Regions from separate parts of the Homo sapiens genome. Here region 1 is linked to region 2. The links come from fine-mapping of genetic effects on gene expression. A gene starts in region 2. The other region holds a variant in brackets. All regions are shown on one strand. Distances are from middle to middle.

Region 1 (15,616 bases), 110 kb before region 2:
AACACTAATGCAGAGAGATCCCTATGCCTTTCACCCAGTTTCTCTCAATGTTAATACCTTGCCTAAAAGAAGTACAATATCACAACCAGGAAATTGACATTGATATAATCTACCAACCTTACTCACATTTCAACTGTTCTACACATGCTAATTTGTATGTGTGTTTAGTTCTATGCATTTCTAATCATGTGCAGATTTGTGTGACCACTACCACAGTCAAGACCCAGAACAGTTCCATCACAAAGGTCCCTCCTGCACAGGCACCTTCTTCCTGCGTCTCCTTCCTAACCCATTCACCTGTTCCCCATCTCTATAATTTTGTCATTTCAAGAATGTCATATACGTGGAATCATGCAGGACATAATCTTTCAAGATGGACCTTTTTCACTCAGCATAATTCCCTGACATCTATCCAAGTTATAGCATGTATGAATAGCTTGTTCCATTTGATTGCTAAGTAGTATTCCATGGAATAGATGTATCACAGTTAAACAGTCAACCATTCACTCACTGAAGGACATCTAGGTTGTTTCCAATTTGGGGCTATTATTAACAAAGCTGCTATGAACATTCATGCATAGGTTCTTGTGTGAACATAAGTTATTATTTCTCTGGGATAAATGCCCAAGAGTGCAGTTGCTGGGTTGTTTGATAAGTACATATGTTGTAAGAAATTGCCATATTCTCTTCTGAATGGGTGTACCATTTTACGTTCCCACTAGTAATGGATGAGTGATTAGTTTCTCTGCATCCTTACTAGCATTTGGTTTTAGTATTTTTTAGTTTAGCTATTTTGGTAGGTGTGTAGTGATATCTTGTTGTAGTTCTTTTTTAGTTTTAGTATAAAAGCTCACTTTTGTCCTAATAGAAAAGCTTATTGTAAAAAACATGGATAACAAGACAATCATAAAAAGCAAAATAAAAACCATCCATAATTCTCTTCATTCAGATATAACTACAGTTAGTATGTTAGTATATATTTTTCTAGTATTTTTCTGCAGACTTATCTATTCATCTAGCTATTTACATTTGATAAAACTAGAAACATAAGATACAATTTTGCATTCTATTCTTTCTCATAATGTTATGTGGGGAATATTCTTATGTATCCTATGGCATATTATTTGAAAACTTTTTTTTTTTTTTTTTTTTTGAGATGGCATCTCACTCTGTTGCCCAGGCTGGAGTGCAGTGGCACGATCTCGGCTCACTGCAAGCTCTGCCTCCCAGGTTCACGCCATTCTCCTGCCTCAGCCTCCCGAGTAGCTGGGACTATAGGCGCCCACCACCACGCCCAGCTACCTTTTTTTGTAATTTTAGTAGAGACGGGGTTTCAACGTGTTAACCAGGATGGTCTGGATCTCTTGATCTCGTGATCCACCCGCCTTGGCCTCCCAAAGTGCTGGGATTACAGGTGTGAGCCACCGCACCCAGCCAAAAACATGTTTTTAATGGCTGTATGACACTGTATTTTATGGGACTAATTTTTAACTATTATTTTTGGACATTTATGTTATTTTCAATTTGGATATTATAAACATTTCTTTGAATGTCATACATATACATGGATTTTAACTTACATCTCTAGTTAGTTCTTTATAATAGATTGTATAACTGGGATTATAGGTCAAAGTGTATAAACATTTTTAAGACTTTTGGCACATACGTACACATGTCCAGAGTGCTTTCCAGGAAGATTACATTTTTTACTCATCAGAGTGCATATCTCACCAGATCCTCAATAACAGTAAACATTTTTCAACTTTGCTTTTGTCTTTTTAATTTTTGTTTTTAATCTTTTTATCTTTGCCAAGTTGATAGAGAAATTAATTTGCATCGTTTGTTAGTAAATGAAGTTGAAATCTGTTCATAAATTTTCTTATCTATTTGTATTTCTTCCTTCATTGTTAGTGTTTGCCCTTGGCCTGGTTTTCATTGGTATGTTCATCTTTTTCTTATTAATTTGAAAAAAAATCTTTATATATTATGGATAGTAATTATTCTTTTCTTGTATTTGTAGAAAATATTTTTCTTTGTTGGTCAGTTCCCATTTTTCTGGCTGTGAGATTTTTTTCACTCATTTCTTTATTCTAGAAGCATTTATTGGATGTATTTTACATGCCAAAGAGTGTGCTAGTAACAGAATTTTTTAAAAAAAAAACTGAATATCAAAGTTCACATCCTCAGGGAATTCAGAATTTAGTGAGAAACACACACACATAAATAAATGTTTCCATTATGCCTATTTCAAAAGGAATAGATATGGAATTCCGTGGGACACAGAAAAAGGAAATATAACTGGGCAGGCTTCTTAGAGGAGGTAATGTTTCAGCTGGACCCAAAGAATGAGCAGGAACTGGCTAAGTGCAGAGGTGGGAGAGGAAGTCCCAGGCAGGAGGAGCATATGCATAAAAGCAGAGAGTCAAGATGGTGCCTGGTGGGAGCAGTGTAGCTGAGCAGGGATGGGAAATGAGATAATGAAAAAACTCATCTTGTTTCTGAAAATACAGAAACTAAAGATATTGGAGCAAAACAGGAAGTTATTCTACATCAAGGATCTGGTCAGGGTCTGTGTTTTTCATCTGTGGAGTAACAAGCCCAAGGGAGACTTATTGCCCAGGAACAACCCACTTCTGCACTCACCCCCACACCCCACCTTAGCCAAGGGAGTCAAGGGCTGAAAAGCCCCGAAAGATCTTGCTAAAATCACAGCAATAGGCTCTGCTGCATGGCCTTCTCTTTCTCTCATGGTTAAAGGATTTGGGATAGACTGGAAGATGGATAATGGGAAGGTGAAATGGAATCTGGCTATGGATTTCTTCTCGAATGTTCCTACTCTTGGCCACATACCTGCCTTGAACTCAGGTTGAAGAACCCTAGAGGTTGCTGATCTTCATAAGTGCAATGAGTGGCAGACATGCTCTTTCTCTGGTGACAGCTGAGACTGTAAGTAGCTAGGCTGTCTCAATCCTCATTTCATGGTGAAGCATTCCAGAGAAGGCAGGACATCTGAGGGGCGTGACATCCTTGCCTGCTTGCTTTCTTCCTGCTTGTAGCCTGAAGCTCAAATAGGTAGCCTGATAGCAAAGATGTCAGCATTCTCTCTTTCCTCTAAATTAATTCCTTTATAAATCAAGGTGCAGCAGGTTAACACTGGCAAAAACAAAAACAAAAACTACACTGATCCAAGCTTGTTATTCTGTATGGCCAAACATAAAGGGTATATTCAAAGTATTAAAAATATACAGTATCTATCTCTGCTTATTTCATGTCTTTGTCCTCTGTACTCAGACATGTCAAAGGTGACAGCATTCAGGATGTTAACGAAGAGAGCCAGGAGAGGAAAAGGTGGATGAACTCTCAACAATCCACTTGTTAGAATCAACAATCCTTTCCTGACCTCCTTGTCTCATCTACCTTGAAAAAATCTTCAGGATTCACCCAATCCACTGTCCCCGATTTGAAGGTGACTTTTTTAAAGTTTTATTTTTAAAGTTGCCCTTTCTATGCTTTTTAGACATCCAAGTAGCTGTAACTGTTTATCTGGTGATTTTTTTTTCCTATGGCAATGGTCACACATTGATAGACTGGCTCTTGAGTGGGCAGATTGCTGAGTGATATTTACCTGCCTGGTGGATGATTCTAACATATTTTGCGTGTACGTCTCTTGGGAATCTGGAACTCAATGTATCTATCAGAGAAATAGGCTAGGGCAGGGGAGCACTGCATAATCTCTAAACTCACCCCCACACTCCCCCAGCTTCCCCAGCTCTAACCATTCTCAGAATCTGTGAATCTCAATGACGGCTTTTTCTGGGAACTTTCGGAAACATAATGCTATCTCACAAAAGCCTCCAGGGATGCCTATTGGAGCTCCTTCACTTCAAAGGAGAGGTTCTTGGTCATTTTGATAACAGTTGAAAAAGCACACACCCAGCAGTTTCAGGCTTTTCTCCTTTACAATAGTTATGTTTTTAGATCACTATCCTTCTCAGAAATTTAAACACAGGATGTCAATTGCAAGATGGTGGAATAGAAAGACAGCTGCATTGAAATCTGGGGTTTGAAAAATAATCCAAGGTCTTTTTCTCTCTCTCTCTTTTTTTTTTAAATTTGAGTTTCCCCCTGAGAAACCTTGGCTTTTGAAAATAAGGCCTCCTCCCATGGAATGTTGTTTCATAGGTGGGATGCAGCCCTCATGATTCTTCACTGAAAACATGGAAAGCAAATAGGACAATCCCAACAGCTCTGAATTGGAAACAGTAATTCAACGTGTTGGTATTTCTGGAGCTTATGAGAAAGAAAATCTAGGCTGAAGGAAGAAAAGAAATAGGATGAAAATAATGGTAAGAAGTGGGGGAAGAACTATCCGCCAGTTACTTCACACCAATTATTTCTGTTTTCCTCACCATCCTAGGAGGCAGGAGTGATCCCCATTTCACAGAGGAAGAAACCAAGGTTCCAAAAGGAAAAGTAACTTGCTCAGCATCACACAGCTGGAAAGTGTTGAAGTATGCCTGGAATCAGTCTAATTAACACCACAGTCTCTTTCCACTTCTCTCTGTTATCTGTTTAACAACACCACACACAAAACTCTGATCTGAGGAAAGCTATTTTTTGCGTGTGTGGCTGGGAAGGCCCAGGAGCACACTTGTGAGCGCGCTCTCTCTCTTCTCCCCACTGCCATTGTGAATTCGTGGTCAAATTATCCTGGTGGGGACACTATGAATACTTGAATCTGTTTTTATTTTTCTCTAGGTTTCCTGATTTTTTTTTTTTTTTTTTGGCTGGAGTGCAGCAGCATGGTCACAGCTCACTGTAACCTCAAACTTCTGGGCTCAAGCGATCCTCCTACCTCAGCCTCCCAAGTAGCTGGGGTTACAGGTGCACACCACCATGCCTGGCTAATTTTTTTTTTTTTTGTAGAGGTGGGGTCTCGCTATGTTGCCCAGGTTGGTCTTGAACTCCTGGCTTCACATGATCCTCCTGCCTTGGCTTCCCAATTCCTAATTTTCTTATCCTGATGGAGACAAACTATTTTACTTCTGTTCCTTTCAATAACAATAAAAAATCCTGAAAAGACCAAGAATAGGGCCCCAGCAATTTCCCCCTAACTGTAATATCTGTAACTATTCCCCCTAACTGTAATAACTATAATGTAATGTCAGGGAAAGGTACATATCAAAGCTAAGCCACTTTCATTTGCCCTAAGCTATTTTGGGGACCATGTGATTGGTTTACTGTTAACTTTAACTATAAAAGAGCAGTTAACTGTAGATATTTATAATCTTTTCATCTTCAAAGCACTTTACAGTATTAATTAATTAAATCTTAGCAACACCTTTGATTAATTCCTTTTTATGGATGTGGGAAAAGTGGCATGGAAATAATAGAAAATGCCCTTGGCCATGATGGAATCAGCATTCCAAGGTAGGATTAGAATTCAAAATTTTCTGTCTCCACCTTTCATGATAAAACCAACAGACCAGTCTCCTGTTCTGATGCCTTGGTGGAAGAACATGATTTGGCCAACTCATTCTTTAAATTCTTTTAAGAAAAGAACTTTCTCAAAAGTGCCTATCACCTCTCCAGTGCTCTTTCCTATTCTCCATGGCACTGTGCCATAACTTTATTCACTTCTTAAATCAAAGGCGTTACTGGAAAAAGTGAACAATATGCCCAATTCTTATGGTTCCACAGAGCTCCCTTGTGTCTCCCCTTGGAGTCTATTCTTAGACCTACTGTTTGTTCAGGAATCCAAAGTAAGTCAGCTTTATCTGGCAACATCTCCAAAGATTTCTTCCTTCTGTATGTCCAGACAGAAAGCTAAGCAATAATTCAAAGACAGAAAGGGGTCAGCAATAACCATTTTCACAGCTACCAGGCAGAAACTCATCATCAATTTCATCTTCAACAAAATTTCCTCATCTTTTTAATGTTGGAAGAATCACTTGAAGTGTGAGATTTATGGGCAGCTGTTCCAGCCGGGTGAGAGTCTTGCAGACAGGTATCAGACGGTTATTAGCATCTTGTGTTCTAAATTAAAGGAGACGACTTGTCTCTGAATATACACTAGAGCCTTGGAAGGTTGGTAGGGATGGAGTGGGCATTGAAGTGCCTACGCTCAACAAAAACTTGGCAGAATCTAAATAACCTTTAATGACTCCCTTCTCTAAAAAGTTCTTATTCTTTGCTGAACTTGATAGCTTTGGTATATTTCAGGTAAGATTATCGTTGTGACAATAAGAACCTTATGTCAAAACCCAGTCCTAAAATTTGGTAGTGCTAGAAGGTTGTATGACAGACACCCTTTGTCCTCCAAACTAAATCAAACTCAGCAAGTTAAAAAGAATAACATGGAAGATTTGGCTTGGAAAACCTGGATTTGAATTTTGGTTCTGCTTCCTACTTGTTACGTGATCAATTAACCTTGTTGAGCTATTGTTTCCTCACTCTAAAATGGAATGGTAATAGCATTACTTGCATTACATAATTGTTGGAAAAATTAAATGAAAATATTTTCGGCACTCTAAAAATTGTTATCAGTTTTAGTTAATAATAATGGCCAATATTTATTGAGCCCTTACCGTGTGCCAGACACTGTGTGTGAGGTATGCTTTTATGTGCATTATCTGCTTTATCATCTCAACGACACTATGAGATAAGGACTGTAATTATGCCCCTCTTATGGATGCAGCAACAGAGGCCTAAAATCACCTGTCTAATAACTGGTGTAACCAGGATTCACACCCAGTCTGGTTAGACCCATGTTCTTGACCACTACACAATATTGTCTGTAATCTCCAGTTCCCTGCTGGACATTTCCTTTCAGATATTCTGCAGTTCTTTCAAATGTAACCAGTCTCAAACAAAATTCACTATCTCCTCTCAAATTATAGTCTTTTCACTGACTTTCTTATTTGCAAAAGTTACCTTTTTTTTTCCTCCCTGGCTTGAAATCTCTGGGTCAT[C/G]TGTGTCTGTGTCTCTCTCTTTTTAGCTGAGGAGTCGCCCTGGTTATTCAATTGCACTCTTGAGACAGCACTCTACCCATTCCCTCTAATTCCTTTTGTCACCACCATGGATGAGAGCTCATCGCCCCCGCAAACATGGATTGTGCAATAACTTCCTAACTTGTTTTTCTACCTTTAGTTTATCCTGTATACTACCTGCTAATTAATCCTAAAATATCATTTTCAACAGTTACCTCCTTGATCAAAAACTTTCAGTTGCCTATGGGAGAAAGTCCATGTCCTGACATTCTTGTTCCTCCACAGCCTGGTCCCACCCCACCTTCCAGCCCTGAGCATGCCCTGCACTTTCTTGCCTTTGCACTTTAGTTAATAATGTTTCTCTTCTCCTTCCTCCTCCCCTTCTCTACCTACTGAATTGCAAACTCTCAAGATCCAAATCAAATCCTTTGTTGACTTTGCCATTCCCAAATATTTATTTCTCCCAAATCAGTAAGACTATACCACCCACCAACCTGTTTACTACTACCCGTTGCTAGTTAATTTTTCACAAATAATGTGTATATCTTATCTTACCTTTCTGATGGGAGGGAGAGGATAGGAAATGTGCCTTATATTTCTTTACCTTCCACACAACACCAAGTGAGTATCTACTGTAAAGCCAAGTGCTGTGTTGCATACTGGGGATACTGAGAAGAACAAGATATATTAAGGAGCTCACAGGCTAATAGTATAGATCAACATGTAGACAAATAGTCACAATTGGGTATGAAAGAGCTAGTAAAGATATGCCTCGAGGACTCTGGGAACACAGAGAAGAGCAATGACAAGCAACTAGAGAAATTGGTTCACAAAGGGAACTTTGAGCTGACTCTTGAAGGTTGAGTAGAAAATAAAAGCTCTTTAGGTAGAGAAGTAGAGAAGAGCTTTTGAGGGGCAGAGAACACCATGTTCAAAGGTCCAGAGGCATGTATGGTGTGTGTGAAGCCTGGTGAGATAAGAGCAAGATGTGGGAAAGAACACCAGGAGAGGAGCCTGGAAAAATAGGCAGCTTCCAGATTATAAGCACCTTTTCATGCAAAGAATATGGGAATTGATCCTACAAGGTAGGTAGGAAGCCAAGGGAGGTTTGTAAGTAAGGAAGTGACATGGTCAGATTTGTATTTTAGAAAATTAACTCTGGCAGCAGCATGTAAATAAATCGCAGCTGGAGACACTTGAGGGAGAGACACCAAGAGAGTTTAGGGGTCTGGACAAAGGCTAGGCTAATGGGGATAGAGAGGTCTGTTTACCTGAGGTATGTTAAGGGGGAGCATAAATAGACTTAGTCTACCATTGGATATGGTGAGTGAGGGAGAGAATGGGAGACTATGGATCACTAAGGTTTTTAGGTTAAGAGACTAGTAGTGTACGCATGACCCTATTCATCGAGGTAGAAAATACAGAGGTGAAAGACTGGGTTGTTTTGGCTATTGCTGCTGTTGTTGTCATTTCTATTGTTTGGGTGGGGTAAGTAATGAGGTTAGTGGCAGATGTGTTAAGTTAAAGGCACTTGTAGACCATTGACAAGGAGATGTTGAGTAGCAGGTAAATTTTTCTTGTGCCTGTCTCACAGCCTGGCACAGAGTGGGTACTTAACAAATGTTTGTGGAGAAACAAAATGAGAACCACCCAGACTAGGCATGTAAGCAATACATGAACTGACTAATTACCCATGTAAAATCATACCCTTATTTTCATGGCAAGGAATATAATATGTACTAGTTCTTCTAGTGATGAGAGATCACACAAAAGTTACACTGAGAGTCCTCAACTAGGTCATTGCCATGGCCTGGTTAGCACAGACACTCTGCTTTCTCTGGCAGACATCATCTGAGGGACAGCATGAACCAGGGAACCTCAGAGTACAGTGACATTGATGTATGAACACATAAACCTTGCACAAGGCCTGTAAAATTTCTCTCAAGGACACAGAAAACAATGGATTTCAAGGTCCATAAATGTTGACTTCATATGAATACTTAAAATGAGACATGGATATTTAGTACCTTTTTTAAACTTAAGAAATCTGAAATAAATCCTGATAAATCATATCCTATTCCATATGTATAACTCTCTTCTAGTCTCTTATAAATAACATTCTCAATTAATCCCAGAAAAATGGGGGTGAGCTAGGGAAAAAGGATGGAGAGAGGGAAAATAGAAATGGAAGAGAGAGGGAAACAAAAGCCCAACAGAGAGAGACTTGAGAAATGGCCTGATGCACCCAGCAGATTCCAGGCCATTCAGCTTCAGTCAGCAGATATAAGTGATGTCCTGGGACATGGAATTTTAAATATTAGCGGACATGTTTCAGTAGTACAGCACAAAGCCATTAATTTCTTTGGCATTTTCAGCACTTCATTGCTGCTAAGCATTCCCAGTATGTTCAAGTTAATAGAAAATTTGCAAGCCAAGGATATTTTATGCCTGCATAACTCTAGTTAAAAACACAGTATTGGGCAATATTTATAAAAGGTATAGACAATGTTCACACAGGTCCAACAAATGCTATTTAAAAGATGATAATGCACTTGTCTCACTTTAATTGCTTTTTCTGCTACTAGATTCTAATCACAATAGCAATATCATGCTCAAGGGCACGTTTCAACCCATAATATAAATGGCAGTCAGTGTGATAATATACATTTACCTTTCATGGTGATGCAGAAAGAAAGAAATAACATGTGCTTAAAGTACAGTTGGCACTCAATAAATTGTTTTGAACTGATTACAAACATGGGAGGCAGTTTCTCTGGAAACAACTGTTTTGCTTCAGAATACTACAAGGCTCTTCCTCCCCCATTCTTCTCTTCAAGTCAGAATTATAGGCTGTGGATTTATGATATCTTCTAGCAGAATTCTCCCATTTTCATAGATGAAAAATGTGATAAGCATGCATAGTTAGTACTCTCTTGGTAGCACGTGACAGAAAACAGAACACCAATCAATTTAAGCAAAAAAATTAAATTTATTGGCCTGTGTAGATGAAACGTCCAGGGCGGTAAGTATAGTTTCAGATGTGGCTGGATTCAGAGCTCTATGTTTCACCTTATATGGTTGTCTTTCACCATATTTTTGGCTTTCATTGCAGAATCTAAGTGCCCCGGTAGAAAATGGCGGTGCCAGCCCTCAGCTTCCAGTAGAGCAGAAGTGTCTGCCTCAGTCCCAGAAGCCTATCGCATTTCATTGGCTTCAGTGGGGTCACGTGCCCCTCGGGCAGCTAAAATGTGCCGGTGGCGGCTTAATCTAGGTCGTGTGCCTGCCCTGGGGAACCAGCATCTCGCTGTAAGTGCACTGGCTTCCTGGAGAGGAGGGGTAGCTGTCTCTGTGCAGAATTGAAGTACACTATAACACCATGAGAAGGGAGAGTGAATCCTGGGGTGGGGAACCAATAAATGACCTTGCGACCTTATGTAATATTTAAATTAAGATTTAAAAACAGCCTTTGCATCCCAAGGTAAAATCTTCCTCCATCTCAAAGAAGAGTCCCCGTTAGGGGAAGAAAAAAAAAAGTTATATATATATAGCAGTTGTTTGAGGACAGCTGAATGAAGCCGTTTCTCGCATTTGGGTTTCTTCCTTTACCTTCCATTCTTCTCTTTGTTACCACCAGCATCAGTCAGAATCCCCACAGTGTCTTCTCCTCCAGAACAAAGTATTCAACAGATACTCATTTCTGATTCCTGTAAGAAATGTTAATTGAGTCTGGGCTTCTCCACTGAATCCTGAAAATTTTAGAGTATGTCCCCACCTTCGCCACCCACAATCCTGACAGTTTTGGTGTCACCTTAATCTAAGAACCCAACCTAATCTTCCAAGTCCGCTTGCATTTTGTTTGTTTGGGGAAGTTAACGAGTATTAACAGCTGTTTATTTGGACCTGGATGGGTCAAAGGCCCTGGATGTGGGCCAGAACCACATAGAAGTCAGAGGCTTTAGTATTATCCCTCTGCTCTGAATGCATCCATTTCTTTTGTTTCTCATTATTATTTTGAGCCCTTCAGATTCTTTCAGAGTTCATTTTCCATTCACTTCCTTGTCATAAATATACATTGTGCAGGCATTTTTCTTTTTAACTGTGTCCCCCAGATTTTACTTGACCACTTGGCTGCATCCATTTGCCAGATGAAAATCTATGTTCTTCAAAAACTGCTGAAAATGCCAGTGTAGTCATGCATGCTAAGTGTCAGGAGGAAGAATTGGTGCTGCAACACACAAGATGATGTCAGAGAGTTATTCCTAGGAGCACAGCATGTCCTTGCTGCCAGCAAATCTCTCTCCTGCCATTCAGAAATTCTCACTTTGTTCAGGTGAAGGTTCTGTTGCCACACTTTTTTGAAAATTGCACAGACTCCACTTCACTTCTCATTTATCCAAAATCAACTAAAATGAATAAGTGGGCTTTCTGGATTTGCCACACATTAATCTCATTCTTTTATGCAGTAAAATGCCTTTGCTGGAAACACAGAAAAGGGGAAGACATAAATAACTGCCAATGTATCTGTAAATTTTAATTTTAATTGTATTAGTTATCTATTGCTTTGACCATCCCAACATTTAATGTCTTAAAACAACAACTGTTTTATATGTTCATTATTCTGTAGGTCAACAGTTGGGGCTGAACTCAGCTGGTCTCTGCTGATCTCTTCTGGGGCTATTTTCACCTGAAGCCATTAATGCAGTTGCAATCATCTAACAAGTCAGATGGGATCTGATAGTCTGAGATGGCCTGACTCATATGGATGGGGGTTAATGCTGGCTGTTGGCTAGGTCATTGTTTCCAGCAGTCTTGCTTGGGTTTCTTCACATGGTCCCAGAAAAATTCTTGGCAACAAGAGAGAGAGTCAAGCCCAATGGGCAAGCATGCTTCAAGCCTCTGCCTCTGTCAAATTTGCTAATGTCCCATCAGCCAAAGCAAGTCATATGGCCAAGCCCAAGTCAATGTGGGAGGGCACTACTCAAATGCATGGGTTTGAGGTGGTGGAATCCATTGACAACCATTACTATAAAAATCTATCACATTAAGTTAAACATCTACATCATTTCTTTTCTTAAAAATGAGATTTACTTGGGAAGATGTCAAGGCAAACTCATTACCAGGAAGAACATCTGTCAGAGATTTACAGATACAGAGCAGAGATATAAAACTTTTATAGATTTATTAGCACCAATGAAGCATAATCTGTGCACTGAGGCATTACCCCAACTGTAAAACCAAATCCACTTCAAAAACAGGAGTATAGGCCTTGAACAGTGGCTCATGCCTGTAATCCCAGCACTTTGGGAGGCTGAGGTGGGAGGATCGCTTGAGCCCAGGAGTTTGAGACCAGCCTGGGCAACATGGTGGGCCCTATTTCTACAAAAAATTGTGAAATTAGCCAGGCATGGTGGCTCCAGCTACTCAGGAGGCAGGACAATCACTTGAGCCCAGGAGGTCGAGGCTGCAGTGAGCCATGCTGGCACCACTACACTCTAGCCTGGACAACAGAGTGATACCCTATCTCCAAAAAACCAAAATTTAAAAATATACTTAATGCTGGGCGCGGTGGCTCACGCCTATAATCCCAGTACTTTGGGAGGCCGAGGCAGGTGGATCATTTGAGGTCAAGAGTTCAAGACCAGCCTGGCCAACATGGTGAAACCCCGTCTCTACTAGAAATACAAAAATTAGCTGAGTGTGGTGGCAGGCGCCTGTAATCCCAACTGCCTGAGAGGCTGAGGCAGGAGAATCACTTGAACCTGGGAGGTGGAGGTTGCAGTGAGCCAAGATCCCGCCAATGCACTCCAGCCTGGGTGACAAGAGCGAGACTCCATCTCAAAAACACAACAAAACAAAACAAACAAACAAAAAACTTAAAAAAAACAGAAGTCTAGGCCTGTATATTGATTCTGCTTAGATATTTAATATACAATTGCATTTAAGGTCCTTTCAAAGGACTTCTACAATAGGGGAAGGTGAGACATTCATTGGGTTAGATAAATCAAATTAGTCATCCCAGTTCTGGTAATAGGGAGAGAACAAGGCAACTCTGACAGTTAATAGCAACTAGCATTTCCTGAACACTGATTCTTAGCCACTGTGTGTGGTTTACTTTCTTTAAGCCTTGAACAGTTCTGTGATGTGGGTAGTTATCTTATGTCCATTCTACAAATGTGGAAACTGAGGTCTAGAAAGTTTAACTTACCCAAGCACACACAGCTTAAATAGAAAGGTGGTGACTTGAACTCTGTCTGTAGAGCCTCTGTAATTGTCCACTAAGTCATGCTACTTACTCCATGACATGGGACAAATGGATGGAGTCCATGAAATGATGTCTCTCCCAGGCCCAACACTTCAAATGTATGGTCCTGTTGCATGTTGCTCCTTCACGGAATGCATTCCTTCTGGTAAGACCTCTGGACTTCCAAGTCATAAACAGGGAGTCCCAGAGGGCCTGAGGGAGGGAAATGGCTTCCATACAACATGAGAATTGATAATAGGGTTGATTGTTTCCTACTTGGATTATACTGGGATCCCTTATGTTTCTCAGTGAAGTAGCTGCTGAGCCTAGCATATCTGGGCTTAAAGATGTAAATGATCCTCTGTTTATGCCAGCACCTTCTCATCAAATAGCATTATTGAAAATCAGAGATTTAGAATGACTGCCCTCCAACACATCTTAACGGAGTTATTCCAATAATATCGATAAGTGCAGATGATGATTAGAATGTAATGAGGGATGAGAAATACTATTCTGGATTAAGTCAATTTTCTCATAAACATTTTCATAAAATCATAAGTAAATTTAGGCTCTGTACTTTTGTGGTCTATTCCCAAGTCCCTACCTCTACCTCCAGGAAACTTGGCCTCCATTCTTTCATGTTTCCTTCTACACACCTTTAGCATCATACAGATTTTAAATTAGGTTTTGTGAAATGAGGCCCCACAGATTTTTTACCATTGTCCAGTCATATGCCTTTTGGCAAAGAGAAGCTAAGAAGCAACAGCACTTGTCAGAGAAGTATCCTTACAACTGCCTTTGCAGGCGGATTGATTTAGCAGAAGAGAAGGCAGTGTTTAGCTAATTTTGAAGAAGAATAAATGCATTAGATGGTATTCAGTGGAGCATGATTTGCATAGCATATAAATTATATAGAATTGCAGTGCAGAAAACTCAGAGCTTTCCAGTGGTGAATGAGTCTAATTTGTAGCTATTTCTAGGGACTAAAACATTCCGAAATAATAACTGGAAGATTCACTTTCCATTTCACAATTTGTGGAACACACAAGATAGGTTAAAGTCTTTTTTTATGTTGTTTTCAAGTAAACCTCTTGACTAATTCATTTTGATTTTAAAAACATAATGCATTGGTTTTTCCCTAATTCTGCACTGAAGTTGTACACATATTATCTGCCTCAATTTCCAAGCTTCAGTTCATATTTATGTATTTATAAAGTCTGCTGTTCTCAAAATGGAAGAAATCCTAGAAAAATTAATTATTTAATGAGTTTCAATATTCAGATTTGTGAGTTTTCACTTAGAATATAAATTTGGAGGCACATTCAAAATTTAAGCATAGCTTGACACAAATTAATATCCACATGAGCAGTGTGCAGTCAGATGAAAAAGAGATGAGAAGAATGTCTTCAAAGAAGATAGGACAGAGAATCTGTTTCCCTGTGAAGCTTGTTGTTTTGACTCAATGATATAATGAAGGTACACTGCAGGAAGAAGGCATTGATTCTGATCCCAAATCCAGCCATTCAAGTGCTGCTCAGAAGAAGAAATAGGGAATAGGGAAACTGGAATTCCATTCAACTAGAATTTCCTGGGCATTAGAATGTTTACAAATATGTAGATGAAATTGACATAGATGTTGGCTTCAAGAAATGAACTGTCCAGTGTGATAGACAAACAAACATCTATCAAATGGGAGGCAAAATGTGCTGTAAGTTTGGATCTTGGTAGAGGAGTTGGTTGTACATTATGAATGTGCTAAATGCCACTGAATTCTATACTTTAAAATGGTTAATTTTATGTTATATGAATGTCACCTCAATATTTCAAAAATGTGCTGTGAAGAGGCACAGAAAGAGAAAGGAAGAACCCCATTTCCTTGGGAATCTTTGCCTGTCATCTCTGAAGAAAAGAAGGCTTGCACATGGAAGGTGGGGAGCATCTGGGGGCTTGAAGTACCTGAGTATCTCAGTTCTGCTTTTGTTTTACTAGTGGACATCTGGTATTTTGAAAACTCTGCTGTTGTCTGGCCATTCTGGGTTAGAACATAAGTCCCATGAAGAGTAGGTCCACTGGAAATGTATTTGTCTACCTGATGAGAGTTGGGGACCACAGAAGTGACCAAAATACCAGTGAACTGGGGAAAGGACCTTAGATTTTAAAACTAAGTTGAGAACACATGGACACAGGAAGGGGAACATCACACTCTGGGGACTGTTGTGGGGTGGGGGGAGGGGGGAGGGATAGCATTAGGAGATATACCTAATGCTAAATGATGAGTTAATGGGTGCAGCGCACCAGCGTGGCACGTGTATACATAGGTAACTAACCTGCACGTTGTGCACACGTACCCTAAAACTTAAAGTATAATAATAATAATAATAATGAT
Region 2 (15,616 bases):
CCAGGGCACTACTCACATAGACTCTGAATTGCACCACCATATGAGGCATCCCTGATTGTACAAAGAAGTAACTAAGTATGGGTCACTTCCAAAAATGGGAAATTTATACTTCCACTCTGAAGTTTTCTACTTAAAGGAGTGGGTTTTTTGAGATGGAGCCTCACTGCAATGCCCAGGCTGGAGTGCAATGGTGCAATCTTGGCTCACTGCAACCTCTGCTTCCCTGGTTCAAGCGATTCTCCCACCTCAGCCTCCTGAGTAGCTGGGATTACAGGTGCCTGCCACCATGCCGGGCTAATTTTTGTATTTTTAATAGAGACAGGGTTTCACCATGTTGGCCAGGCTGGTCTTGAACTCCTGACCTCAAGTGATCCGCCTGCCTTGGCCTCCAAAAGTGCTGGGATTACAGGCCTAAGCCTCCGTGCACGGTCAGGAGTGGGTTTACTTAACTGTCATTAGAAACATTAGGCACAATATTATGAAACAAAACAAACTTTCCACCTTGCTTAAAAAAAAATTATTAGAAGCAAATCAATGCAGTGTACACGTGGCAGACACTGTGAGTTGCTTACCCAAAAGCTAATCTCCCCTCCCTGTATTTACTAAGAGACCCCTCCCCGCCAAGTTTTGTCCCTATGTTGTGCAGCCAAGAGGCAGGGCCCCCTTCAGAGTACCAGAGGTGATACTGGATAAGTAATAAGATATTTCATTACCCTTGGCAAAGATTCATTTAGTAAAGGAAATTTGGGAAACTGTGGCCAAGAAGCTAGAGGAGAAGTCTTGCTGGAGGCCTTTCGGGGAAAGGCTTCCTTGATCTACAAAAAGGAAATGAGGAAAGGAAATATCCTTTTCCCTCCTTTCAGTCTTTAGCCATTATTGTGTGTGGATGTGATACTTGGAGCCTCTGCAGCCATCTTGGGACTGAACTTGTAAAGTTTCCATAGTGAAACATATTGATATGTTTTGGATATTTGTCCCCTCCAAATCTCATGTTGAAATGTGATCCCCAGTGTCAGAGGTGGGGCCTGGTGGGAGGTGTTTTGATCATGGGGACAGGACGGATCCCTCATGAATGGCTTAGTGCCGTCTTCTTGGCGATGAGTGAGTTCACACCTGACCTGGTTGTTTAAAAGTGTGTGGCACCTCCACCCTCTCTTGTTCCCACTTTCACCATGTGATGTGCCTGCCACTGCTGCACCTTTCACCATGACTGAATCCTACCTGAGGCCTCACCAGGAAGCCAAGCAGATACCAGCGCCATGCTTGTACAGCCTGCAGAACTGTGAGTCAACTAAACCTCTTTTCTTTATAAATTACCCAGCCTCAGGTATTTCTTTATAATGACACAAAAATGGCCTAACACACATAGCTATCTCTAGCTCTATAGATTAGATAGATTAGATAGGGATAGCCCAAAGAAACCTTGGAGATCACCAAATTCAATTGCCTCATTTATTTTTATTATTTTTGTTCCATGTTGTTTGGTTTATTAATATTCCCCAATGGAAATCACAACTATTAAACCAACCATTATTTTTGGAAAGTCGTGATAAACATGAATACAATACGATTATTTAATTAGGTGTCATTTTAGAGATAGAAGCTTAAAATATGACCCCTTTATGTAATAATTGCCAAAATAATATCCTACCAGAATTAATTCAATAGCATGGGTAGCTTATTTCTAGAATATTTTAAAAACTGAACCAAAGCTTACTAAGATGGGTGAATTTAATACAATGTTTTTAGCTTTGTCAAAGATAGTACAATTTAGCACAAACTAAAATAAAAATTTACTGTTTGCTCTATGCTGCATCCTATGTTATCAAATAGCTTGACTCAAATTACTTGACTCAAATAGCTTCATACAGTTCTCACAACAACTCAGGTAAACACTGTCATCAAACCCATTTTGTGGATGAGGAAATTGAGGATAGGCAAGGTTAAATAGCTTGCTCAAGATCACAGAGCTAGCAGTAGAAAAGCTGGGATTTGCAGTAAGTAGAAAAGCTGGGATTTGCAGTCTGATTTGCTCAAGCTCTGAACCACTGCAGTTTTCTGCCCAAGAATGAATACAACTTATTCATGGTTGAGGCATGTGGCAAACACTGTTGGATGCCTACTTAGCAACTATTTCCCCTTTTCTGCTCTCAGTCAGAACACTCATTTTGTTTAGGGGTGACTTGTGATCAATTTAATGAACTGTGGCCAATCCTATCTCTTTTTGCCAGTGACTGGTCTGATGTGGCATATGACCATTTTCTGGACAATAAGGAAGATTCTAAAGTCTGGGAAATATTTTTCTCCTTCATAAAAATGGGGGACAGCACTTCCTTTTCTTCCGTTCCTGCTCTGTGCAGTGACCTCTGTGGATGTGATGTCTGGAGCTATGGCAGCCACATTGCAATTAAGAGGTGACAAACCTGGAGACAAAAGCTCACATGCATGTGATGGCAGAGAGCAAACACAAAAAAGAGCTTGGGTCCTTGATGACATGATTGTACTGCTCAACTAACCCTGAAACTATCTGCACTTGAAATTTATATTGAAGATATAGTAAATGACCTCATGCTTTAAGCTACTGCCAAATATTCTGTTCCTTGAGGCCAAAGGCATTCTAACAGATGCAATCTAGACACAGAAAGATGTTTTCCCAGAGTTCCTGCAAAAACAGATGATGTGTAGGTTATGGAGATTTTATCCAGGAATCCATTAGTATAGGTAGTAGTTTAGAAAAAAAATACTCCAAGCTTTGTCTCAGATATGGTTAAATCTGAGCCATCCACATGGTGTCTGTGCTGAATATTTTCCCCTCAGATGCACTGTTTCCTTTTCTGAAACTGACTGATATGAACTATATCAAAAGCCTCCCTTGCCCTCTGGCGTCTGGTTGGACTTGGCCATTGACAAGCACCAGCAGGAGACTGGAGGAGGGTGGTGAGTTAGATATAAATCCCCCAGGTCCTTTGCTGGGTGTTTACTTAGGCTGACTGCATCCGTTGACTGAAGGTCACAGACTCCTGTCAGGTGGCCCTGTGTGTCTGGATTTTTCGGTAACTGTTCTTTCCCGATTGGACAGATCTAGGAGCTGTAGCCTCAGGGTTCCAGCTTCTCTTGTGGTTTCCCACACCCTGCCCACATCTTTGCAAAATGCCATTTGTTTCCTGCCAGGACCCTGACTGATACAATGGTGTCAACGAAATCACTGCAGCTATTGAAGCTTGGTCCAGTCTATCTGAGGTGTGGAGTTTTATAAGGGCTTTCACCTACTATTAAAGGGAGACAGGAGACTACACAAATAAATGTCATGCTGCAAAAGTGAAACAAAGATCATAGCTCAGAGAAAACACTTTCCACTTGAGGGCAAGAAATCAGAGAAAGCTACCTGGAAGAGCCGGCATTTGGGATGAGGACGGATAGGAGTTTTAAAAGAGATGAGATGAAGGGCATTCCAAAGACAGGGAAGAGTGTAAGTCAAGCCGGGGAAGAGAGAAAGCTCAAGTGAAATTTCTGAAAAATTAGAGCTGGAAGGGATCTACGATATCTTTTATTTAATGTTCGTTCTCCCTTCACCTCCTTTAACTGAGATTTGGCCAAGGTCAAACAGCAAGTAAGTAGCATGTCAGGACTCCAACCAGATCTGCTGGCTACCAGGTTAGTTCTTAATAATCCACCTTCTACCTCCACCCCACTCCCTCACCTCAGGCAGTCTGCTTACTTCTCAGTCTCTCCCACTAGACTGTAACCTCCTCAATAGCGGGGCTTCTGTTTTCTTCACCCTTGAATCCCAGTACCTAGCACAATATCTAACACAAAATCGTCATCGTCATCAGCAGCAGCAGCAGCAGCTACCAAACTTTAAGAGGCAACCACCCACTGTCAGGCACTATGCAGTTATTTTGTACATCTTCTGTAATCTTCACTTTTCACTGAGGACGCTGCGGCTCAGAGAGGTTGTCTAATTTGTCTTAGGTCATACAGCAGTGCCGGACTCTATTTTATAATATCTTTCATCAACCGGACTCCGAAGCCCTGCCTCAATGGGCGTTCAGTAACATCTGTTGAATGAACGAATGAACAAGCAATATCCACTCAATGCAAACTATCGGCTGTAACAGGCCACCCTAAAGGCCCCGGAACCTCGGCCGGCTCAGGACTCCGCACGTTGTCTTCCAATCTAAGCACACCGGCCCCTCTCTGCGCCCCGCACAGGCTCAGAGGCTCCGCCCGCGTCTCCGCCTAACTCGCCGGCCACGCCCCCACTTCGGGGAGCTCGGTCCCTCTCGGATTCGAGTTTTCCTCGGCTCCAGCCGCCGCGCAGAGGGCCTCTCCCGGCCCTGCGACCTACAGCCCCTTCCACTCCCCTGCCCCTCCTCTGCGCCCTCCCTCACTCTCCAAACTTCTTTTTTCCACCCTCTCTAAACTTCAGTCATTCTAGTGCCCGCCTCCTCCACTCGCACCGACCAACCAGTGGTCCCCATTCTCGTTGGCGGTCCGCCTCCTGCCCGCCGGGGGCCAATCCCTGGCGCGAGAGTCCAGGGCCGGGGCTCGTTCCCAAGCGCCCAGCCTGTGACGGCAGCGCGCCGGGCGCCGCGCGGCGGGAGGGGGCGGGGCTCTGGATGAGGGATGGGCGAGGGCCGGGGGAAGGGAAAAGGGAGGAGGAGGAGGTTGCGGCTGGTTTGAAAGCGGCAGTTTCCTGGCAGCTTGGGCAGGCGTTGGTCTCCGCGCTACAGCTCCGCAGCGGCCACGATCGATCCCGCGACGGGTCTACGCGCGCTTCTGCGCGCCCCCCACGGATTTTTCCCGTTCCCGGCTCTTCCCCCTTCACCTCCCCGCCCCCCCGCCTCAGCCTTTCCCGCCGCTCGGGCGCTGAGCCCAGGGACCAGCCGGCGGCAGTGACCCCGCCCGAAGCCCCTTCTGGAACCTCCTGGGGACAATTCCCTTTTCCTTTCTTCAGCCTAACCCGCGGTGGCCCTCGCGGAGTCCGGTCAGCCCCGGGGAGCGCAGCCGGGAGGGGCGTCCAAGGGGCGTCTCGCGTCTGGGAACGGCCGGGCCCCCAGCGGGCTGTGGTCGCGGGGTGGGGGCCGGAGCGGCGAGGCCCCCCTTACCGGGCTGCGCGGGCCGCCCAGGGCCCCCGGGCTGAGACGGGGCCGGAGCGGCGCCCCGGCCGCCCGCGCGGGGTCTCCCCCATGGTGCAGCGGGGTTCGGGATGTCGAAGACGCTGAAGAAGAAGAAGCACTGGCTCAGCAAGGTGCAGGAGTGCGCCGTGTCCTGGGCCGGGCCCCCGGGCGACTTCGGCGCGGAGATCCGCGGTGGCGCGGAGCGTGGCGAGTTCCCCTACCTGGGGCGGCTCCGCGAGGAGCCCGGCGGGGGCACCTGCTGCGTCGTCTCGGGCAAGGCGCCCAGCCCAGGCGATGTGCTGCTGGAGGTAAACGGGACGCCTGTCAGCGGGCTCACCAACCGGGACACCCTGGCTGTCATCCGCCACTTCCGCGAGCCCATCCGTCTCAAGACTGTGAAACCAGGTACGCCGGCCCTGCGTATCTGTCTCGGGGTGTTGGGGAGAGGGGCTTCAGGGTGGGCGTCCTGGGAGCGGCGGCACCTCCCCACCGCGTATTGTCCCGGGTAATCTTAGACCTCTAGGGTGTGCCAGACTCCTTGACGAGGGGGAGGGGTGGCGTTGGTGAGTCCCATTTTGCCGAAGGGAAAACTGAGCTCTGGCTTGGCGCGGTTGCTCTGCTAGCTGTGCTAGCTGTCACAGAATTGCGACTAGAAGCTGGGTTTCCTACATTTGTAGCTCCATCTCCCCCCGCAGACAAGAGTTTTTGACTAGAGAAGGCCAGCCTTTTCCTGTGTTGTGCAAAAAGGCCCTTAGGATTGTAACATTTTCTTTGGAACGATCTTACGCATCTTCTAACAGGGAAAAAGGGACTTTACTATAGAGGCACTTGGTGCCAAGGTTACCACCTGGTGTACCTGGAAGGGCTTAGCTGCTTCAGTGTTTCTTGCACTCTAGCAGACATCTCAGAGCTGACAGCCTAACTCTGTCAGTCCAGGTGGTTCAGGTGTCTGAGTACCGATGACGGTACAATATGTGATATGTGGCAGACTGGTGTGTTCTTGCAGGGAGCTGTTGAATAGAGTCTGGGTTTTGCAGGAAGACCTAGGTGCCTAGCGGAGTGAAAGCTTCTGTAACGCTTTTGATTTTACAGAATTTTGTTGAAGTGGTAGGTTAAAGGAGCCTCTGTTGCCCTGGTATCTTTTATGCTAGTAAAAATTGCTGCAAAGCACGTTATGTTTATGGCATACTCGTCAGTTTCAAAGCATTGATCAGAGACAGCATACAGTGAGATCTGATAGTATGTAGTAGTTCTTATGAATTTGTTATAGACAGCATTGTTGGTTTTGTTTCAGCATAGATAGAATGTGGTTCTGTCGTCTTAGATGTTTGTGGGAGAGAGAATTGTGATTGTAACATTATTAGAAACCAAACTGTTTTTCCTTAATGTGCTCTGCTGAGTATACGGTGCATCAAAATATAATGGGCTGGTTAATTGTTACCTGGGCTAGGTAGCAGTCCATCCCTTGATGGCAAAATGCTAGAAAATTCTGGATAAAAATTTAATATGTTATCTCCTTCTCATTTCTTTCTCAGCAGCTCGCTTTGGAAATATTAATATATCTTTAATAGTCCTTGAGCTTAATGGGGCTTGATGGTTTGTGGTGCAGTTTACATATGTCTGTGTATTGTGGATATGTATACACACAGACTCACATGCTCCTAAGGTCATAATTAAGATTTTCTTTCTATAGCGTATTCCATCGTATTCATTTTAAGTGTATGGGTTTATGTGGTGAGGTTTTCTTTTTATTGTTGTTAATTTTTTAAAACTTTGGCAGACTTTAAACAGCTTTTTCTGTATAGTTTTGAGAATTTGTAAATTTTTTTCTTAACTCTAACTTTTACAGCCATGTGTGAAAGGCAGAGGAAAGACTTTTGGGGCTGTAATTCAGCTAGTCAGGCACTGTCTGTAATATGCAAAAGGCTATATAGACAGCATTTACTAGTCTAGCTGCCAAATCTTAGTTCAAATCCCATGAGTTAGTGAATAGTGAGAACATCTGCATCATTTCTTTGTGTTTTGTTTTGATTCGTTAGGGCATAGATGAGAATATAACTTATTTTTAGAAATTTTAAAGTTGATATATTGACATGGAAGCTGGTGTATTCTAAATTATTGTGATCTTTTTTAGAAGACTGAAGAGATGGCTATTTCATAACATTAGTCTAATCTACCTGTTATACATTTTTCTCAACCTCTATATTATATTTAACAATAATTCAAGATTTAGAGCATTAGTAATATTAACTGTGTTGAATAAACATCCTATGCCCCCGTATGTAGTTGACATTATTAGAGTAATACAGTTTTGCCCTCTTGACAGCCACAGACACTGTTCTATTTTAAAGATTTAGCCAAAATAAAGGGAATAACGTATTAATGGCCACAGAACATTTTGTAGTCATTAGTAATAAAGTTCTGAATACTACACTTGTTTTTTGAAGAGACACTTTGTGTCAGTAATTTCTCAAGATACCATTATGTCTGTGTTATTTGAGATTAATATTGTTTCTAAGCAGGTTGTAATTTAAAATTTTTAATCTCTTTTAAAAATAGTATTCTTAGCTTCTTAATAGCCTCATGTTAGGTATTATATTAAATGGCTTTCTTAAATGGCTTTGCTTAAAAGCAACATTTGTTATAAAATAGCAAGATTTTTGCAGGTTAAACAGACTTTAAATACTAGAAATTAAGAATTTGAAGAGGTTATCTGTAGAACTTTTGAGTTTGATTAAAAACAAATATTATTTTCAGAAGAGACAAAGATTCTTTATTGTGATTCATTTTGGAAAGGATGAAAATAGAGTAAGGGAATTTAAAAAGAAACTTGCCATAAACATTGTTTTATTTTTTGCTTTTATCTAAACTTTGTGACAGAAATTGATTTTTCAATTTAATAAGGTATTGTAAAGTGTACTTAGCACTCTCTTGTCTTGACTAGTTGCTTTTTATTAAACCATATTCATAACATGACATTTAGAGACTAGCACAGTGAAAGAGTAAAATTTAACCATTTTTGTAAGATGTAATACTAATCGGAAATGTTCTCATATTGTCTTCTGACAAAGTCCATGGCAGAAGGATGAGCTGGGTTGTAGAACATGGCTTTTGTAGCACTGATTCTTCCTAGCCTTCTTTTCACTTAGGTGCTAAGGGTCGCCCTCCCAAAGCCAGTACTATCAGCCAGGTGACTTAACATCTTTCTGGCAGCTACTGTCTTTAGCTTTGATTTTTTTTCCCTTTTTTTGTTGTTATAATCTTTAATAGAGAATTGAAAGTTACTCTTTAAAATATGGTTTCTAATCTGAAGCTTTTCCTGAATCAATTAGGTAGTTTCTTATTGTTTTAGTGTAGTACTTAGTAGTCAGTACTTTGCCCGCTTATAGAAGAATCTTTGGTTTCACCTATTGCTTGGCTCGATTAGTTACTTGTTTCTTAATTATGACCCTGTTGTTTATTTTTCTGCAAAGAGAAAAGTTGTCATTTGAGTTTGAACTTTGTCTTTTCCCAGTAGTAAAGTTGAACTTTGGACCTCTGGTGAAATTGTTTTGTGATATACTACTATGACTAGGTTTAGTTTCTTTGATTTTACTACAGAGTATATATTCTTAAACCATTTCTATTCTGATTAATATACAAGTAGTGAATTTTGTTCTGAAATTCCCCAGACTCTAATTGTGCAGAGTTTTATGCTTCTTCATACACCTTTAAGCTCATATTTCAGCAGTTTGCTTTCAGTAAGTTTCAGTAAATTATGTGTATTTTATTCCAGAGATTAAGTATCGGTACAATAAATACATGAAATCATTGTCTACTGCCATATGCACACATTACATTCAACTACCCTAAGCAAGTAGTGTATCCAGGGATGGAAATCATAGGAAACAATGTTATAGTTTGTTTAAATAAAAACCAAGTTGAAACAGTTCCTGGGTAATGTTAAAGGTAGGTAAAAGTCTTCACTGCTGACTCTTTGGGACATCCAATTTGTAAGGGAGTTTTGTTAAAATGGGCTAATTCCTAGAAATACACTTCCTGTTGGTGAAGAAACACTACTGGATGCTTTAAAATAGGAAATATTTATGTTATTCAAATAAAAATAATGCTGTGCCTTTCTTATCTCTTGAATCTTTTTGTTAGTTTTTTTTTTTTTTTTTTTTTTTTTTTTTAGTGGGATATTTAGGATTTTTGATGAGTTTTGTTTAGGTGGTTGTATTATATGAGGATGGGAAAGGTAAGAGAATTTAGAGTTAATTGTTAGCCTCCCAGGCTTACAATACATTTCTTCGTACCTTTTTTAAAACAAGAAAATCTAGAGACCTAGAGATTATTTTAGAAACAATAGAAAAAGAAGCAAGCCAAGCCCCTTTGCTAGGGAAAGTAGCATTACATTTTGATAAACCTTGAAGTTGAAAATTTCCTATTTCAAATTTTGGTAGTTTTTTTTTCTTTTTTCCCTAAAGCTCTTAATAACTCAGGGGTTCAGGTTTTGGATTCTGTTCATTGACACCTTCAATTCATATGAGTAATGGGCTTACACCTTAGCAATTGCAAGCTGATTTGCTTGCATGATATTTGATGACTTTTATTATATCATTAACATCTTTGTACTTAAAAAATATTTTCTCTCCATCATTCTCTAAGAGTACTATATCCAAATATCTCAGTATGTATATATGTATATACGTGTGTGTATATATATATTATATGCATATATGTATATGTATATACACACACACATACTTTTGTTAACTTTTCTTGTATATCATTTTCTAGTATATCATTTTGGGTACTTTATTGATCCTGCCCTCACCCCCAGACTTTTATAATTTAGTTTGTAAAACTTTATTTTCCTAGGTTGAGGCATTTTAATAATTCTTTAATTTCTTGCTATCTTACTGGTACAAACAAATACTTAACATTTGGCCATTTGATTTTTAGATGATTTTAAATTTTATTCAGTTTATTGCTAAAACTGATTTTCATGTAACATAACTCTGTGTTCCTGGGACGTATACATTATTTTTCCTCTGAGATCCTGGCACATACTTTATAAAACCTTTTGTTTTGAGAGACAAATTTTTGTGATTTTTTTTCTGCTAATTTATGTAAACTGGCGACAAAACAAATCTTCTAAATTCATTCAAGTGTCTGACTTATGAAGTCAGTGCCTAATCTTCTCAAGTGATAGTTTCATACAGAGTCTTTACTATGTAACCCCTAAGTGCTTTGTAATTTTTGGGGGGACTTAGTGTTTTGGGAGTATGTTGAAAGAGAATCTTGTTTTTATGGATTACTTCAGTATTATTTACCAATTTCAAAATCTGTGAATGTCAGGGTTGTGTGTGTGTGTGTGTGTGTGTGTGTGTGTGATTTGACAAAAGATAAGTGTTTTGGTATTGAAGACTAGAACCGTTTCGCCTTTAATAAATTATTTTTTGTCTTCTGAAATTTTGAGCAATAATTTTCTTGAAATACTACATTTTGGTAGATAGAGTGAATGCCCTGAATTTAAAACTATTGTCTAAAGTAAGAGTTTCAGAAACTTAGAAGCTGGTGTTATGAGACATGTTTGTAGGGAAAGAGGCAAATCCATTCATTGCTCTTCTAGCTAATTTTGCTAACAAAATATCTTGCTAATATTTTGTTTTTGAAGAACAACTATTATTCAGAATGTTTTCCAAGAAAAGATGCATATTTTATTTAATACAGAAAAAATAAGAAGTCCTATTACTGGCACGCATTCATTCCCTCAGCAAATACTTAGTGGTGCACCCACCAAGTGCCAGCATGGAGCTAGCACTGGCGATATAAACATGAGTCAGAAATTGTGTGTCTTCAAGAAGCTGGCAGTTTAGTGGGAGCTTAATGACTCATTGGTAAGGAATACCTGTAGTAAGGGTTTTGCCTTTTTCACTTTTCTGCCAGTGTTTAAAACTCTTTAGGTAGGTCTTAGTATGAATTTTGGTGAAAATGAGACTAACTGGCTGCATAGTGTGCTATTCGAAAAAGTAGTGGAGCTGCATTTTAGAAAGGATTTGGGTTCTCAAGTCATCACAAAAAGAGGGAAATCAAATATAAGCAAAACTGTCTTTTCAAAAAGCCCTTAAATTGTGCATAAAATACTATATTGTACTGTTTGTAGGATGAGTCCAAATGCCACTTTTCCACCCATGTTGGAACCAATTGCAGTTTTTTGGTCGAATACCAGAAGAAGTAATTTGCTTGCATTAAAAAGATATGTTTTACAAAAAAACTTTTAATTCTAAGAAATTATCCTCATCTAGGTATGTACAGTGAATTTATGGAAATTAAATGTGTACATGAAGTGAAAGAATGATTTCTTTTCTTTTTTTCTTTTTAATATCTTGGTAGGATCCACGCCATCTGCCCTTGTTTTCTGACTTGAGTGGTTGAGGAATGAATTGTGAATAATTTTGAACTTGTTTGGGTTTTGAAAGATGACAGATTTTGGTTGAGTGGAATTAGGATCTTTCCAGTAGTAGGTAAGAAGCAGAGGAGGAGAAAAACACAGGGCAAAAACGTTCCATACAGAAAGGTTTACAGTGTGGTCCATCTCAATAATTTTGTGTGTGTTTGTGTACAAGGGCACAAAATCCACATTATAGAATAATTGGAAATTATTTTGTACAAGGGCACAAAATCCACATTATAGAATAATTGGAAAATAGAGGGAAGATCATATTAATTGTTTAAATGTATAGGTAGTTCCATTATGAATAGTCTCCTGTAAGTTTTTTTTAAATGTGTTATCTCCTCGAAATAATGCTCTAAGGTGCTTAATGCTATTTCTGCCTTCAGCCTCATTCCACTCATAATGTTATACTATGAATATTTTTATTTAACCCTTAATGTACCATTAGTTCTGTTCTTTATGGTTAATAGCCCTATTTTTGTTGTTTTGGAAGTCTAGCCAGTTTTATGGGAAAACACAATTTGCTAGCCTAGGAAAAAGGGAATTGAAAAATATATTTTCATCTTAATCCCGCCTTCCCTTTTGTTACAGCCACAGCCGACTGGCTTCCAGTGAGAAGGGTGGCATCATTATATCTCCATTCTTCCCTGAACCCTAGCAATTTATCCTGATGCAGCCACTCAGCTGCATTGCAGTGGTTTCCAGGAGCAACCCACTTACCTGCAGCCCCCACCCATTTCAGTCATCCCAACATGGCCAGGGGAACATAGATTACATTTTGAGGACCATAATTTGACTTATGACATATCTAAATACCTGAGAAAGGACACGCTGTCCTTATAGGTGATTAGGTACTTGTTTTATTAACACATACTGAGAGATATTGTTTTAGAGACTCTGTATGGGTTATGAAGGGTTAAACTTTTTTGCCATAATTTGTTTGGAGTTTAGGGTTTGGTTTTAAAAAATATCATGCAGTGGTAATTGGAAAAAATTTTGTTTCAAATTTATTAATAATTAAGATCTTTTCTATTTGGAGGCTTCCCTTTTTATTGTCTTGGGTATACAATGTGAACGGTAACCGATCTACTTAATTAAAACTTTCTGGCATTTTAGCCTCTTTGCTTTTGCTGGTTTTTTTGCACATAATTTGAAACACGTAATTATTATTTTCTGGCTTCAGGGGAGTTTGTGAGAGGCAAGCCTGTATCTCGTTGTTCTGATTGGGAATTACACATGACTATGAAAAATGGGATTTTACTATACATAATGGCATTTAACAGAAGTAGTTTTATGAAAGGAAAATATCCTACAAGGTAGGAAAAAAACAAGTATTTATTAATGCTTCATTTTCTGAACTTAAATAGAATTAAGCTAAATTGGCTTTGCTTTTTCCTCCAATAAAATAACTTTTAAAAATTCACTTTAATGGAGTAGTTCCAGAGATATATTACTCTTTGGATATGGTTATCTAGTTTGCAGCAAGTATCTTGTGATATATAGCTTAGATCTCAGCAGGAAAGAAAAAAATCTTAATTTACATATCAGTTTCTGTATTTGTAAGAATTCTGTAGCAAGTGACAGAAACGCTGTTGAGATTAATGTAGGCTAAGAAGAAATTTATTGACTTACATACATTAAAATCCAGGCATAGATCAGTAACAGCTAACTTCTGTTCTCAAGTGTTGGTCATTAGAATTATTATTTGGTTCTCTTTTCTTCTGGGTTGGATTTTTTCTCAGCTAGACTGTCAGTGTAGCGGTGAAGGTAGCTCTGAACCCCGAAGTCATACAGGGTCCTTAAAGCTTCTCATCTTTTTGGAGTCTAATAACAAATCTCATGCAGGGACTTTGGCCCTGTGCCCATCTCTTGGACCAATTATTGTAGAGAGAGGAGAGGACAATGAAGTGCCATGATTGGTCAGGCGTGGGGACATGTCTACCCTTGCAGCTGGGTATAAATAGCATAATATGATTAATAACTGTAGCAGAACCCCAAGACGTAAGGGAGGGGGAGTTCCTGAAAGGGTGGGATGCCGAGGAATCAATACTACAGGAAATGATCTCTTTTAAAACATTTAATCTCTCTTACTTGGAGGCCAGAAGTAGTACACAGTTGTCATAAAACTATCATTTTTAGAAAAACAGATATTGGCTGTAAACCAAAACTGATTTGATTTCTAGGCACTGCTTTTACTCAAATATTTAAATAAAAAATTGCTTTTATTTAAAAGTTATTTCTTTAAAAAATTGAAATACTGATACCTTAATGTGCACAATTTAAAAGTATTTCTTGTAATTTTTATTTAATTTTCTTTAAAAAAATTAAATAAGATTCTCTAAAATCAATGCTGTTGATTTTTAGGGAGATGGAATACTTTGGAAGATTAACAGTCTTTGGCATTGAGAAAAATATTATTAGCCTAGTTAAACAATTACGTTTTTAAAACAATTTTATTCTACCATTTTGAAAATGAAATTCTAAACGAATTACTTTCCAAGGTGTTTTGCTTTTAAAACAATGGTCTTTTTAAACACAAATTGAGACAATGTCATTATTGTAGTATTTCTGAGGGCTCCCTAATAATACTTTTTAACCATGATTTCGTGGAAATTATGTGAAAGGAACTACTTCACTGACTCTTATATAAAATGGGTATATAAGAGTTTTGAAACATTACTTAAGTATGGTGTCATGTGGTAACTGTTTAATTACCAAAAATGTTATTTGGCAGATATTGCAGGATAAAATCTGATCCCCTTTTTAAAGTTTTTTATAGCCTCCACTGGGAGAACAGAGGTACTCAGAGCAGGGGTAGACAGTTGAAAGAGAGGGGTGGGTGCTCCAAATAACATTTCATACTATTTTTATATTCTATTACTGTATCAATGTCTTCAGCTTTGGTGCCATAAAAATAATAATTTTAGTAATAACTTTGAGTTTATATATGCCATGCACAGTAGGAGTTTTGTAGTTTTGCCAAGTGTCATCTGGTAGTTGGATCTTTAGTGAATATTAAATGTTGGTAGATTATTGGTGAATGCACTTACTGTACATAAAAATGAACATTCATGGAATTGGGTGTGATTTGCCAGTAAGAATCATCATAGCAAGTACTTTGTATTGTTAGATTAGTTTGGGCACCCTTCGGATGACTTTAGACCATATTTGGAAAATTACTGCTTCTACTTCAAAAGCCTGTAATAATTAGAGTTCTCCAATATTAATTCCATATATTGATTAATTAAGCCATGAAATCTAGTAAAATGATATAGTCTTTATTACCTCTGTTCACAGAATTGTATCTCAATCCAACTTGGTAGCTTTCAGCAGAACACTTTGTCAAAATATTATTAATTTTAGCTAAGAATTCTATTCACTAATTTCAGTGTTTAAGTTAGAATGCACATGCTAGTGAAAATTTTAATTTCCTTTGAATAGAATTAGATTTGCTAACTAGAGCAATCTCACAATGTAATGCTGATGACTGAAATGACACTTCAGCCTCCCTTGGGTGACAACCCTAAGTTTAGACAACCTTACTCTAATAGGAATATTGAGGACTTATCACAACATATTAGCTGTCATTTAGAGTAATAACTTCCATGTCAGGGCATTTTATACCTGTCTTATTTGGTTTATAAGGATGTATATATTAGCATTCATGTTTTCTTATAAAGAACTTTATATATTTTTATTCTCTATGAGTCAGATATTATCATCTTCCTTTACACATGAGAAAATTGAGTTAGAGAGATTAACACGTGAAAGTTCACACAGACTCACAGGAAGAATTATGAACTGACACAGCGTTGAGTCTTTCTTTACTTTCTGGATAGAATATTAGTTCATTATATCCAAAAAACCTGTCTTCCTTTTTCTAGTAAAAGGAAAAAGCACAATTCTGAATTGTTTGCGTGGGTGTTAAATGCAGTAAAACACTGGGCAAGTACTTACAATAAAGGCTTCACTGCTTGGTTCTGTTTCAAAACAGAGTTTGTGGCCGTGCAGTTTAATCTGTACAGCTAAGCTGCATGATAAAGTAGTTATTTCCAAG

Direction of the effects. Alleles are on the strand shown, and positions count from the first base shown. SD is a standard deviation of normalised expression in the study named.
For the expression in thyroid of the gene that starts at base 4,691 in region 2, allele G in region 1 goes with a higher level than allele C (small effect, 0.37 SD a copy in GTEx).

What was found. PIP is the estimated chance that this variant, and not a neighbour inherited with it, causes the effect.
Region 1: its variant is fine-mapped to the expression of MAGI3 in thyroid (GTEx, PIP above 0.99).

The regions. Positions count from the first base shown.
Region 1 is chr1:113,272,894-113,288,509 of GRCh38, forward strand. No RefSeq gene overlaps it. Among named protein-coding and RNA genes, the nearest start is that of MAGI3, 110 kb to the right of the region's middle. The variant C/G (reference allele first, on the strand shown) is at 6,972.
Region 2 is chr1:113,385,825-113,401,440 of GRCh38, forward strand. It overlaps MAGI3 (membrane associated guanylate kinase, WW and PDZ domain containing 3), which reads left to right and starts at 4,691. Exons shown (of 21, transcript NM_001142782.2): 1 at 4,691-5,525. The coding sequence starts at 5,210. RefSeq lists silencers at 3,023-3,267, 4,257-4,306, 4,337-4,696, 5,107-5,236, 5,297-5,456 and enhancers at 5,137-5,636, 5,687-5,736.